Homo sapiens: one gene and its partners. The protein of the gene in region 1 interacts with the protein of each later gene in a pairwise test. Each region holds a gene or a part of one and is shown on either strand. Other genes may lie near its edges.

Evidence for each region.
Region 2: the proteins of SLC18A1 (region 1) and MARCHF2 interact in a two-hybrid assay, tested with the Homo sapiens proteins (one large-scale study listed by BioGRID).
Region 3: the proteins of SLC18A1 (region 1) and YIPF1 interact in a two-hybrid assay, tested with the Homo sapiens proteins (one large-scale study listed by BioGRID).

What each region holds. Positions count from the first base shown.
Region 1 is NC_000008.11:20,180,833-20,184,661, reverse strand, and holds the start of SLC18A1 (chromaffin granule amine transporter), read left to right. Parts: upstream 1-1,525; 5' UTR 1,526-1,599; intron 1,600-2,709; exon of another isoform or gene 2,710-2,913; intron 2,914-3,574; 5' UTR 3,575-3,697; coding exon 3,698-3,821; intron 3,822-3,829.
Region 2 is NC_000019.10:8,430,185-8,433,913, forward strand, and holds part of MARCHF2 (E3 ubiquitin-protein ligase MARCHF2), read left to right. Parts: intron 1-473; coding exon 474-683; intron 684-3,729. UniProt on the Homo sapiens protein: E3 ubiquitin-protein ligase that may mediate ubiquitination of TFRC and CD86, and promote their subsequent endocytosis and sorting to lysosomes via multivesicular bodies.
Region 3 is NC_000001.11:53,851,798-53,855,297, reverse strand, and holds part of YIPF1 (protein YIPF1), read left to right. Parts: intron 1-246; exon of another isoform or gene 247-297; intron 298-3,027; 3' UTR 3,028-3,500.

The DNA of each region.
Region 1 (3,829 bases):
GATTAAGGATCTTGAGATGGGGAGGTGATCTTGGAATATCTGGGTGGGCCCAGGGTCATCCCGTGAGTCCTTACAAGTGAAAGAGGGAGGCAGAAGGCTCAGAGTCAGAGGGAGAGTTGAATATGCATTGCTGCTAGCTTTGAGGGTAAAAGTGGCTAGGAGCCAAGAAATGCAGGAGATCTCTGGAAGCTGGAAAAGGCAAGGAAACAACCATCCCCCAGAATCTCCAGAAGGAATGCAGCCCTGCCGACACATTCATTTTAACCCGGTGTGATGTATTTTGGACTTCTGACCTCCAGAACTGCAAGATACTAAATACGTGTTGTTTTAAGCCACCAGATTGTAGTAATTTGTTACAGCAGCAAACTATAGCGATGAATACATTCTGCTGATGTCTTTGTTTCCTATCCCTATTTCTCGCTCTAGGTTTACATTTTAAAACTGTTTCCATCTAGGCCGCGCGCTGTGGCTCGCGTCTGTAATTCCAGCACTTTGAGAGGCCAAGGCAGGAGGATCACTTGAGGTCAGGACTTCGAGACCAGCCTGGCCAACATGGTGAAACCCTGTCTCTACTGAAAATACAAAAATTAGCTGAGCATGGTGGCATGCACCTGTAATCCCAGCTACTCAGGAGGTTGAGATTAGAGGATTGCTTGAACCCAGGTGGTGGAGGTTGCAGTGAGCCAAGATCATGCCACTGCACTCTAGCCTGGGTGACATAGCGAGACTCTGTCTCAAAAATAAAAAAAATAAAATTAAAAAACTATTTTCTTTTTTTTTAGCGTTAAATCGAAAGTTCCCTAGTTAATTCCCACAATTAGGAGGGGCCCACCAGTTCCACAAATAGGAAATCTCTGCACTGCTCTTGCTCGTAAAGTGTATTTGCTTTTTCATAAATTGCTTATGTTCTTTGAGCCACCAATGGTTTAATGTCAGAATAATATAGATCATTAGAGCCTCTCAAGATCCCACAAGGAACTGCACTTTCTCCTGTAGTTAACCATCCAGTCATCCATGCAAGAAATATTTATTGGATGCTACCATGTATCAGGCACTGAGCCAGTATTGAGATGTGAAGACACAGTGCATAATCTAAGCCTTTACAGAGGCCACAGATGTTGGGTTTTTATGGCTTGAGAACAACATACATTGTTTCTTTCCAGGAAGCTAATTGGGGTACATGGAGCCACTTTGACTAAGTAGCAAGGAACAGGAACTGCACACTGGTTCCATCTTGGCTTCCAATTTGTATTCAGACCCAGGCAAGAGTTAAAGAGTTCGATGATAGATAAGCACAGATGCAAAACAGTACAGTCCAGTGCCTCTTTGCTTAGGCTAATATCTGCCCTCTCTTTATCCTCTCCAGCCCTGCCTTCCTGCCTTTGACGCAGGGAGCTAAGGGTCTGAATGAACCCTGTTGGAGGTTGCAATTAAATCTTTGTGGACAAAGGCACACACACACACACATACACAGAATCCTCAGATAACAGGAGGCAATAAATCCAACAGCACATCCACGTTCAGAGAACAGTGTCCCTGCTGTCTTGCTAACAGCTGCCAATACCTCACTGAGTGCCTCACACCAACATGGGCTCCAAGGTAAGATTTTTCTCTCTCCGGACAAATTTAATCTTTCCTTGTGATTTGTGTCTCTGTCAGAGGATTTTGACTGTTAAGTAAAGTTTACTATTGATTTGTTGGCAAATTCCTGGTTTTGTTTGTTTTTGTTTTGGGATTTGGGTGTGTGTGTTTCTCTCTCTTTGTAGTACTTACTTCACTCACTATGTTTTTTAATTTTCCATGGCTTGTCTTTTATTCTTATCCATACATATCCTAAGTCAATTTGTATTCAGAAATACCTCCTTTATATAGAGAAATGAAGGATCTTAAGTAATTGCATGCATTTACTGGTTAAAACTTAACTGAGAATTTGGTTCACTTAGGACCTTGGTCACGTTAATATGTAGTAGTGAGAGGGTTCTTCCAGCCCTGGGCTTAGAACAGAGTACCTCAGTGTTTGGGGTACTCCCAACACCTGAGGCTGACTATTGAATTTCAGTGATAATCATTTAAAATTATTTACTTCTTTAATTACAAAAGTAGCTCATTATTGAATATTTAGAAATACACAGAAGATAACTGAAGTCATTGATTATAAATAACTGGCATTTGAGTATCTCTCTACTCTCTCAAAAATGTGCCCATATATTTATATTTAGACAATTGAGATAAAGTTGAAAACACAGTTTAATTTCCCTTTTTTACTTAACGTTATAGTAATAGTATTTTCTGTATCATTAAAATTATTTGAAAATATAATTTTTAAGAGCCGCTTAATAATCCACCATTAACATGTTTGACTTTTTTCACTAAGAAAAATAATTCTGCAATTGATCATTTTGAGTATAAGTCTTTGGCTGCATCTCTGACCTTTTTTCTTTTGTAGGATGGGTTCCTTGTAGTAGAGTTACTAAGTCAAAGAGTATACAATTTTTAGGGCCTGATAGATTTCATGATGGTAATCTATTTTAAAATTTAAATGAGTGATATTGTTGATACCACAACAGAAGCCACGTCAAAGAAAATGAAATTCTCCCCAGAAACTCTTATTACTTGAAGTTTGACAAGGTACTGTGACTTAATGCTGACTAATGATATGAAATCCTGAATAGAGAACTAATCATGAAAGTCAATATTTTATTTTCACAGATGAAGGCATCTTTCTGATCAGGGGTTTGTAGCTCAAACAAAAGAATGAGCGTGCTTCTAGAACCACAGAGCAAGGGAACATGGTAGAGGATAAGCTGGCAAGTTGAAAAGCGTGGGATTTCATCCCAGTTTGACACTAACTGTGCAACCCCAAACAAATCTCCTAACCTTCAGAGGCTCGGATTTCTTGTCTATGAGATGAAGGTTGGTCTACATCAGTGTTTCTCAGTGGGCAGCCCAAGTGACACTGTGCCACATGAAATATTTTGGGGTAGCACCTAGAACAAAGGTCATACTTTTTTTGCATGCCACATAAAATAACTTTTTGAAACATGATATCAATATCTATGTTGGTTTTAAAAATTTTTTGAGAGTTAGGGGTCTTGCTATGTAGTCCAGGCTGGACTCAAACTCCTGGGCTCAAGATATCCTCCCACCTCAGCCTCCCAAGTAACTGAGACTCCAGGCACATCCCACCATACCTGGCAGTATCTCAATATTTTAAAAGAGTGGATCTAGAGGAAAAAGATGAAGTAAATGATAGTACAGGTAGTCCTTAGATATGACATAAACCATCAAGGTGATAGGCAAATAAATGTCGGATGTTTGAAAAACACAGGGTTAAGTGATCTGTAGAGCATCTATTTTTATCTGGATTTATACCTAGCCATTAAATTCAAGGGAAATTAATGGCTAGATATAAATCCAGACATAAATAGCTAGTAAGCGATGCTTACCAGGAAGGCATTCTGGGAACCAGGTAGAGTTATTGAGATTTATAAGAAGTGAACAGTGATACAGACATGGAGATGTTTCCAAATATCATCCTACTACTTGCAACCCTTTGCACTTTTCGTTTTAATAGTGAGTTTCCTTCGTCTGGGCAGACTCCCTCCCCTCTTCCATAAAGGCTGCAGGAGACCTGTAGCTGTCACAGGACCTTCCCTAAGAGCCCGCAGGGGAAGACTGCCCCAGTCCGGCCATCACCATGCTCCGGACCATTCTGGATGCTCCCCAGCGGTTGCTGAAGGAGGGGAGAGCGTCCCGGCAGCTGGTGCTGGTGGTGGTATTCGTCGCTTTGCTCCTGGACAACATGCTGTTTACTGTGGTGGGTACGTTT
Region 2 (3,729 bases), on another chromosome or scaffold:
GAAACCCCATCTCTACTAAAAATACAAAATTAGCAGGGCATGGTGGCGCTTGCCTATAATCCCAGCTACTCGGGAGGCTGAGGTGGGAGAATCGCTTGAACCTGGGATGTTGAGGTTGCAGTGAGCCGAGATCGTGCCACGGCACTCCAGCCTGGCTGACAGAGCGAGACTCTGTCTCAAAAAATATATATACATACAAAATTAGCCGTGCATGGTGGCGCTTGCCTGTAATCCCAGCTACTCCGGTGGCTGAGACAGGAGAATTGCTTAAACCCAGAAGGTCGAGGTTGCAGTGAGCCGAGATCACACCATTGCACTCCATCCTGGGCAACAGAGTGAGAATCTGTCTCAAAAAAAAAAAAAAGAAAGAAGGAAAGGACAGAGGGAGGCCTAGGCCTGGAGGTCCTTACCCCTCCCCCTCAGTAGCCCCTTCTCTGCCCCCTCTCCTCTGCCCCCTATCCTCTCCCCTGCAGTGGCTGAAGGACCCGGGGCCGCGGACGGAGAAGCGGACACTGTGCTGCGACATGGTGTGTTTCCTGTTCATCACACCGCTGGCCGCCATCTCAGGCTGGTTGTGCCTGCGCGGGGCCCAGGACCACCTCCGGCTCCACAGCCAGCTGGAGGCCGTGGGTCTCATTGCCCTCACCATCGCCCTCTTCACCATCTATGTCCTCTGGACGCTGGTGAGTGGCTGTGGTTGTGCAGCACGCGTCTCGAGCTCTGCCGCTGGGAGCAGCAGGGCCAAGGATTTGGCCCCTGGCTTGTGGGGCACGGGGCTCCCTGGCTGCCTCTGTCTATGGCCGTGGGTGGAAGAGAGCTTCTGAGGTCACCCTGCCTCTCCAGGAGCTTGAGATTCCAAATGTGACAAAGGTCTAGGGAATCCCTGAGCCAGGTGTGAACCTTGACCTGAGTGCAGGAACCCCCATCCATGAACCCCCAAGATTAGGAGTGGGGCAGAGAGGAGCAAAAGCCTGAGAGAGAGATCGGGGGAGAACAAGATAGTGGGGAAATATATATTGATTAAGAAATTGAGGCTGGGCATGGTGGCTCACGCCTGTAATCCCAGCACTTTGGGAGGCCAAGGTGGGTGGATCACCTGAGGTAGGGAGTTCAAGACCAGCCTAACCAGCATGAAGAAACCCCATCTCTACTAAAAATACAAATTAACCAGGTGTGGTGGCACATGCTTCTAATCCCAGCTACTTGGGAGGCTGAGGCAGGAGAATTGCTTGAACTCGGGAGGCGGAGGTTGCAGTAAGCCTAGATCATGCCATTGCACTCTAGCCTGTGTAAAAAGAGCGAAACTCGATCTCAAAAAAAAAAAAAAAAAAAAAAGGAAAAAAGAAAAAAGAAAGAAATTGAAAGGGAAAACCCAGGCACAGTGGCTTACTCCTTTAATCCCAGCACTTTGGGAGGCCAAGGCAGGTGGATCATCTGAGCCCAGGAGTTCAAGACCAGCCTGGCCAACATGGTGAAACCTTGTCTCTACTAAAAATACAAAAATTTAGCTGTGCGTGGTGGTGGGTGCCTGTAATCCCAGCTACTCGGGAGGCTGAGGCAGGAGAATCACGTGAACCCGGGAGGCAGAGGTTGCAGAGAGCCGATATTGCGCCACTGCACTCCAGCCTGGGCGACAAGAGCAAAACTCTGTCTCAATAAAAATAAAAACAAAAATAAATTGAAAGAGGAAAGCCAGGTGCGGTGGCTCATGCCTGTAATCCCCATACTTTGGGAGGCTGAGGCAGGCGGATTCCTTGAGGTCAGGAGTTTGAGACCAGCCTGGCCAACATGGTGAAACCCCATCTCTACTAAAAATACAAAAAATTAACCTGGTGTGGTGGCATGTGCCTGTCATCCCAGCTACTAGGGAAGTTGAGGCAGGAGCATCGCTTAAACCCAGAAGCCAGAGGTTGCAATGAGCTGAGATCCTGCTACTGTACTCCAGCCTGGGCGACAGAGTGAGATTCTGTCTTTAAAAAAAGAAAAAGAAAGAAAGAAAAGAAAAGAAAAATTGAAGGGGAAGAGAGAGAGGAACTGAGATGAAAACACTGAGTGAGGCCAGGCCCAGTGGTTGTAACATCTGCAGTCCTAGCACACTGGGAGGCTGAGGCAGGAAGATTGCTTGAAGCAAGAAGGTTCAAGACCAGGACGGGGCAACAAAGCCAGATGCCCATCTCTATAAAAAATTTAAAAATTAGTGGTGGTGTGCACTTACACTCTCAGCTACTCTGGAGGCCAAGGTGGGAAGATCTCTTGAGGTTAGGAGTTTTAGACTAGCAGGGCAACTTAGGGAGACCCCATCTCTACAAAAGGAAAATAATTAGCTGGGCATGTTGGCTCACACCTGTAATCCCAATATTTTAGGAGGCCGAGGTGGGAAAATCCCTTGAGGCCAGGAGTTCAAGACCAGCCTGGGCAACATAGAAAGACCCCGTGGCTACAAAAAATTTTAAAAAATTAGCTGGGCATGGTGGCACATGCCTGTAGTCCCAGCTACCTGGGAGGCTGAGTCAGGAGGATCACTTGAGCCCAAGAATTTGAGGCTGCAGTGAGCTGTGATCACACTACTATACTCCACCCTGGGTGACAAAGCAAGACCCAGTATCAAAAAAAGATAAAAAGCCTGGGTGCAGTGCTTCTGCCTGTAATCCCAGTATTTTGGGAGGCTGCAGCAGGAGGATCACCATAGCCCATGAGTTCAAGATCAGCCTGGGCAAGATGGTGAGACCCCATCTCAAAAAATAATAATAGGGGCTGGGCATGGTGACTCACGCCTGTAATCCCAGCACTTTAGGAGGTTGAGGCAGGCAGATTGCTTGAGCTTACGAGTTTGAGACCAGCCTGGGCAAAGTGGCAAAACCCCATCTCTAGAAAAAATACAAAAGTTTGTCGGCCGTGGTGGTGCGTGCCTGCAGTCTCAGCTACTCCGGAGGGTGAGGTGGAGGATCGCTTGAGCACTGGAGGCAGAGGTTGCAGTGAGCCGAGATTGCACCACTGAACTTCAGCCTGGGTGATAGAGCCTGACCTTGTCTCGAAGAAAATAATAATATTAATAAAAGAAAAAGGAAAAAAAAAAGGCTGGGTGCAGTGGCTCATGCCTGTAATCCCAGCACTTTGGGAGGCTGAGGGGGGCATATCACTTGAGGTCAGGAGTTCAAGACCAGCCTGAGAAACATGGTGAAACCCCGTTTCTACTAAAAATACAAAAAATTGGCCAGGCACGGTGGCTCACGCCTGTAATTCCAGCACTTTGGGAGGCTGAGGCGGGTGGATCACGAGGTCAGGAGTTCAAGACCAGCCTGACTAACATGGTGAAACCGTGTCTCTACTAAAAATACAAAATTAGCTGTGTGTGGTGGCACATGCCTGTAATCCCAGCTACTCAAGAGGCTGAGGCAGGAGAATCGATTGAACCTGGGAGGCAGATGTTGCAGTGAGCTGAGATTGCACCATTGCACTCCAACCTGGGCAACAGAGCAAGACTCCGTCTCAAAAAAAAAAAAAAAAAAGAAAAGAAAAGAAAAGAAAAATTAGCCAGGTGTGGTGGCACATGCCAGTAATCCTAGCTACTCGGGAGGCTGAGGCACAAGAATCACTTGAATTTGGGAGGTGGAAGTTACAGTGAGCCAAGATCGTGCCACTGCACTCCAGCCTGGGTGCCTGAGTGACAGAATAAGACTCTGTCTCAAAAAAAAAAAAAAGAAAAAAAGCCTGAATGAGAGACAGACA
Region 3 (3,500 bases), on another chromosome or scaffold:
GAGCTTTCCAGGGGCAGTGACAGGTGGGGCTGTCCGGAGGAGGGCCATCAGCAGATAATCATATCGCAGTGTGATCAGGGCTTTAATTAATGATGCAGAGAGGGCTTCTGGAGAGTCCTTTGTCATTAAATCCTCCTGATTGGATACACAGGGTTTGTATGCAGTTATCCTGTCACTCGCTCACATTGTCAAGAGTGTTCATTTCACAAGCCTTGTCTACTTGGCAATTTCCTGTTTATTTTTCAGGACTCACTTGAGATACCCTCTCCTTGCTGAAGTTTTTCTTGACTTCTCCAGGTAGTATTACTTATTTTCTTTTCTGTGCTCTTCTACAGCTCTCGTATGTTCTTCTATTATGGCAGTTTGCTTATTCACTGTAACTTCATAGACTGAGAGTTCCTTGAGGGCAGAGCTTTATTTACCAATATAGCTCCCTAGCACCCAGCAGACACTTGGAGAAAGCTTCATTTGAACAAGTTGTTAGGCCAATCATATAGCATCAAAACTTTCCTGGATTTATGTGGCAGGTTACTTGGGAAATCTTTACTTGTTCATTCATTGAAGTTCTACTCTGTGCTGGTGAACAACGGAGATCAGTCCTTACCCTCCCAGATTCTATACTCCAGTTTTACATCTCATACGCCACACAGACTAGAAGGCCCTTTTACATTAAAGAGAGAAACATGATTATGGGAACTTCTCATTGGAACATCCCAGATCAGACTGTGGTGACATTGGAAGGTTTGGCTGCAGGGCTGAGGCAAGGAAAGGGACAGAGAATGCCCATGCGATAGTGCAGCCACCCAAGATGGGGAGCCAAAAATGGTCAGGAGTCAGGTCATAGGCCAAGAGGTGGTAGAGGCAATCTTCAAGAGGTAAGGAAGTGCTGGCTGATGGTGACATTAGGGACCAACTTTGGCACAAAGGGCAACAGCATCTTACTTTTCTCCCTCTGGCCTAAGTGCCAAGAATTCCCAACCTCTTCGCTTCTGGCCACCCATTAAAAGTTGGCAGCAGGAGAAGGAATTTTTTTTTTTCTTTTTTTTCAGACAGAGTCTCACTCTGTTGCCCAAGCTGGAGGACAGTGGTGCAATCTCGGCTCATTGCAACCTCCACCTCCCGGGTTCAAGTGATTCTCATACCTCAGCCTCCCGAGTAGCTGGGATTACAGGAATGCATCATCATGCCTGGCTAATTTTTCTGTATTTTTGGTAGAGATGGGGTTTTGCCATGTTGGCCAGGCTGGCCTCTAACTCCTGGCCTCAAGTGATCTGCCCACCTCAGCCTCCCAAAGTGCTGGGATTACAGGCATGAGTCACCATGCCTACCTGAGAAGGGAATTTTCTAGTCTTCATATTCTTCCCTAGTCTTGACATTGATTTGGAACAGACAGCTAGAAAGAGGAGAGAAAAACAGAGTATATATTTATGAATATAAAATCTTGAGTGCTTGCTCTGTGGGCCCGTTTGTCCCTACCTTTATTTAGCGTTTCAGAACCCAAGTTGATGGTTACTAAAAGGCTGATCAGGGCTTTAGGTTCTTTCATGCCAGCAAATTACAGCATCTGGCTTTCTCCAGCCACTTTTCACAGATATTTTGTTGGCAATGTTTCTCTTTTCTTGAGCCAGTAGACTTGGGCAGTTAGCCCTTGCCTTAGCCTCACCTTCGTGGTATCATCAAACGCTGACATCTGAATGTGGTATTGTCCTGTTGATGTCTCCAGGAAGGCCTAGCTCATTCTCCCAAGTGGAAGGCTATGCATTAGGAACTTATTCTCCACCATATTCCTTAGTCTTCCCTGGATTTAACTCTATCTCCAGCCCCTCTTTCCAAGTTTCCCTGTCTTGCAAATCCCCAGGTAGGTATACCAACAGTTGCCTCAAATTCATTACATTCCAAGCTATACTCATCCCCCACTACAACCAGATCCTCCTCATGTTTTCCTGTCTCAGGGAATGGCACCATCATTTATACTGTCCCTGACTGCAGAGTAGGTTAGATTCTTTATTACACCCTCGCCTGGCAAGTTAAGATTATAATTAAATAAATAATATTTTCTGTATTTGTTTGCCCTGTTGCTTCTCTTGGTAGACTGGTTCCTTGACAGTTGGGACCATGTCTGTCTTGTTCATCACTGTCCCCAGTACCTGGCACATGGGTCCTCAATATTTGTTGGATTAATTAAGAAATCCATCCAGTCACCCAAGATAGAAACCTCAGCATCAAGGTAGATTGTAGATTCCCCCCACTCACCTTCCACATAGTATCAGTCAGCAAGACCTGTCTTTTCTATCTCTGAAGTATTTTTCATCTCTGTCCTGTTGTTACCATACCCAGTGTTCAGGACCGATCATTTCATATTTGAACTGCAGCAGTAACATGATGGCTTTCTCCACTTCTTTTCTTTTTCTCCTTCCAATTCATCCTATACACAGCCACAGGGGTCTTTGAAAATTTATAATTCTGACCACGCCTTTAACTATGTCACTTCCCTACTTAGAAACTTTTTTTTTTTGGCCCCCTATTGCCCAAATAACAAAATTGAAACCCCCTGCATTGCCACAATCTATCCCTGATTTATTTGTCCTGCCTCATATCCTGCCATTATCTCCTGTATAACCTTACATTTCAATTACCACGGTTTTCCAGGTCCCAGATCTTTAAGTCCCTCCATATCCACTCTTATCTTTTCTCCTCTAGTGCTTAACACAGTGCTGTCACGGAGAAGAGAAAGAGAGAAGGATGGGCAAAGGTAGCTTTAGGATCTGGCTTGGAAAGGGTCACTGGGTTTCCAAGCAAATAGAAGAAAACTTTTTAAAGCATCATCTTTCTTCCAACACTAAGCTCTACTTTTAGCATCAAAATTAGACTCAAGCCTCAAGATTTAGGGAATTGGTGGCAGCAGACTGCTCCGGTGTTGGGAGTTATATCTCTAAACATACATGAATATCCTTTTCTACAATGTAGCTCTTTCCTGTCGGGGTGGGGGGGTGCTTTATCTTGAAAGTTTCCCGTTTTGTTTTTCAGTTCTCTTTTGTTTTTTGGAGCATGGTTCTTTGGGAAGTGGCATCCACTGCAGGAAAGCAGAATGAGCAGAGCCAGCAGAACTGATGGAGTGGCACAAATTCCCAGTGTCTGGATGGTGCCACACTGGCGCCTAATCACCCGTTTAACAAGCAGAAATTAAATGTTGCTCAGCACATGTGTCTTTCAGCTCTTCCTTTTCACCCATGGATGATCATTGCGAGCATGCGCTGATTGGACTGAAATGCCAGGGAATAGGTTAGGCATGCTCAGTGCCGTCCCTTTGCCACCACAGTCAAATGACATGCTTCACTGTGGTACCTTAATACCTGAAATAGAACCATGGAAAATTCTGATGTCCTCTCTCTGAATTATGTACAGACTACCTGGGGGATCCTCTTCTCTCCAAATGTTAGCCATCCTGAAGTAGCCGAACAGTAGAAACTTTGGTGGGGATTAACCGGGAGCTTGAAAAT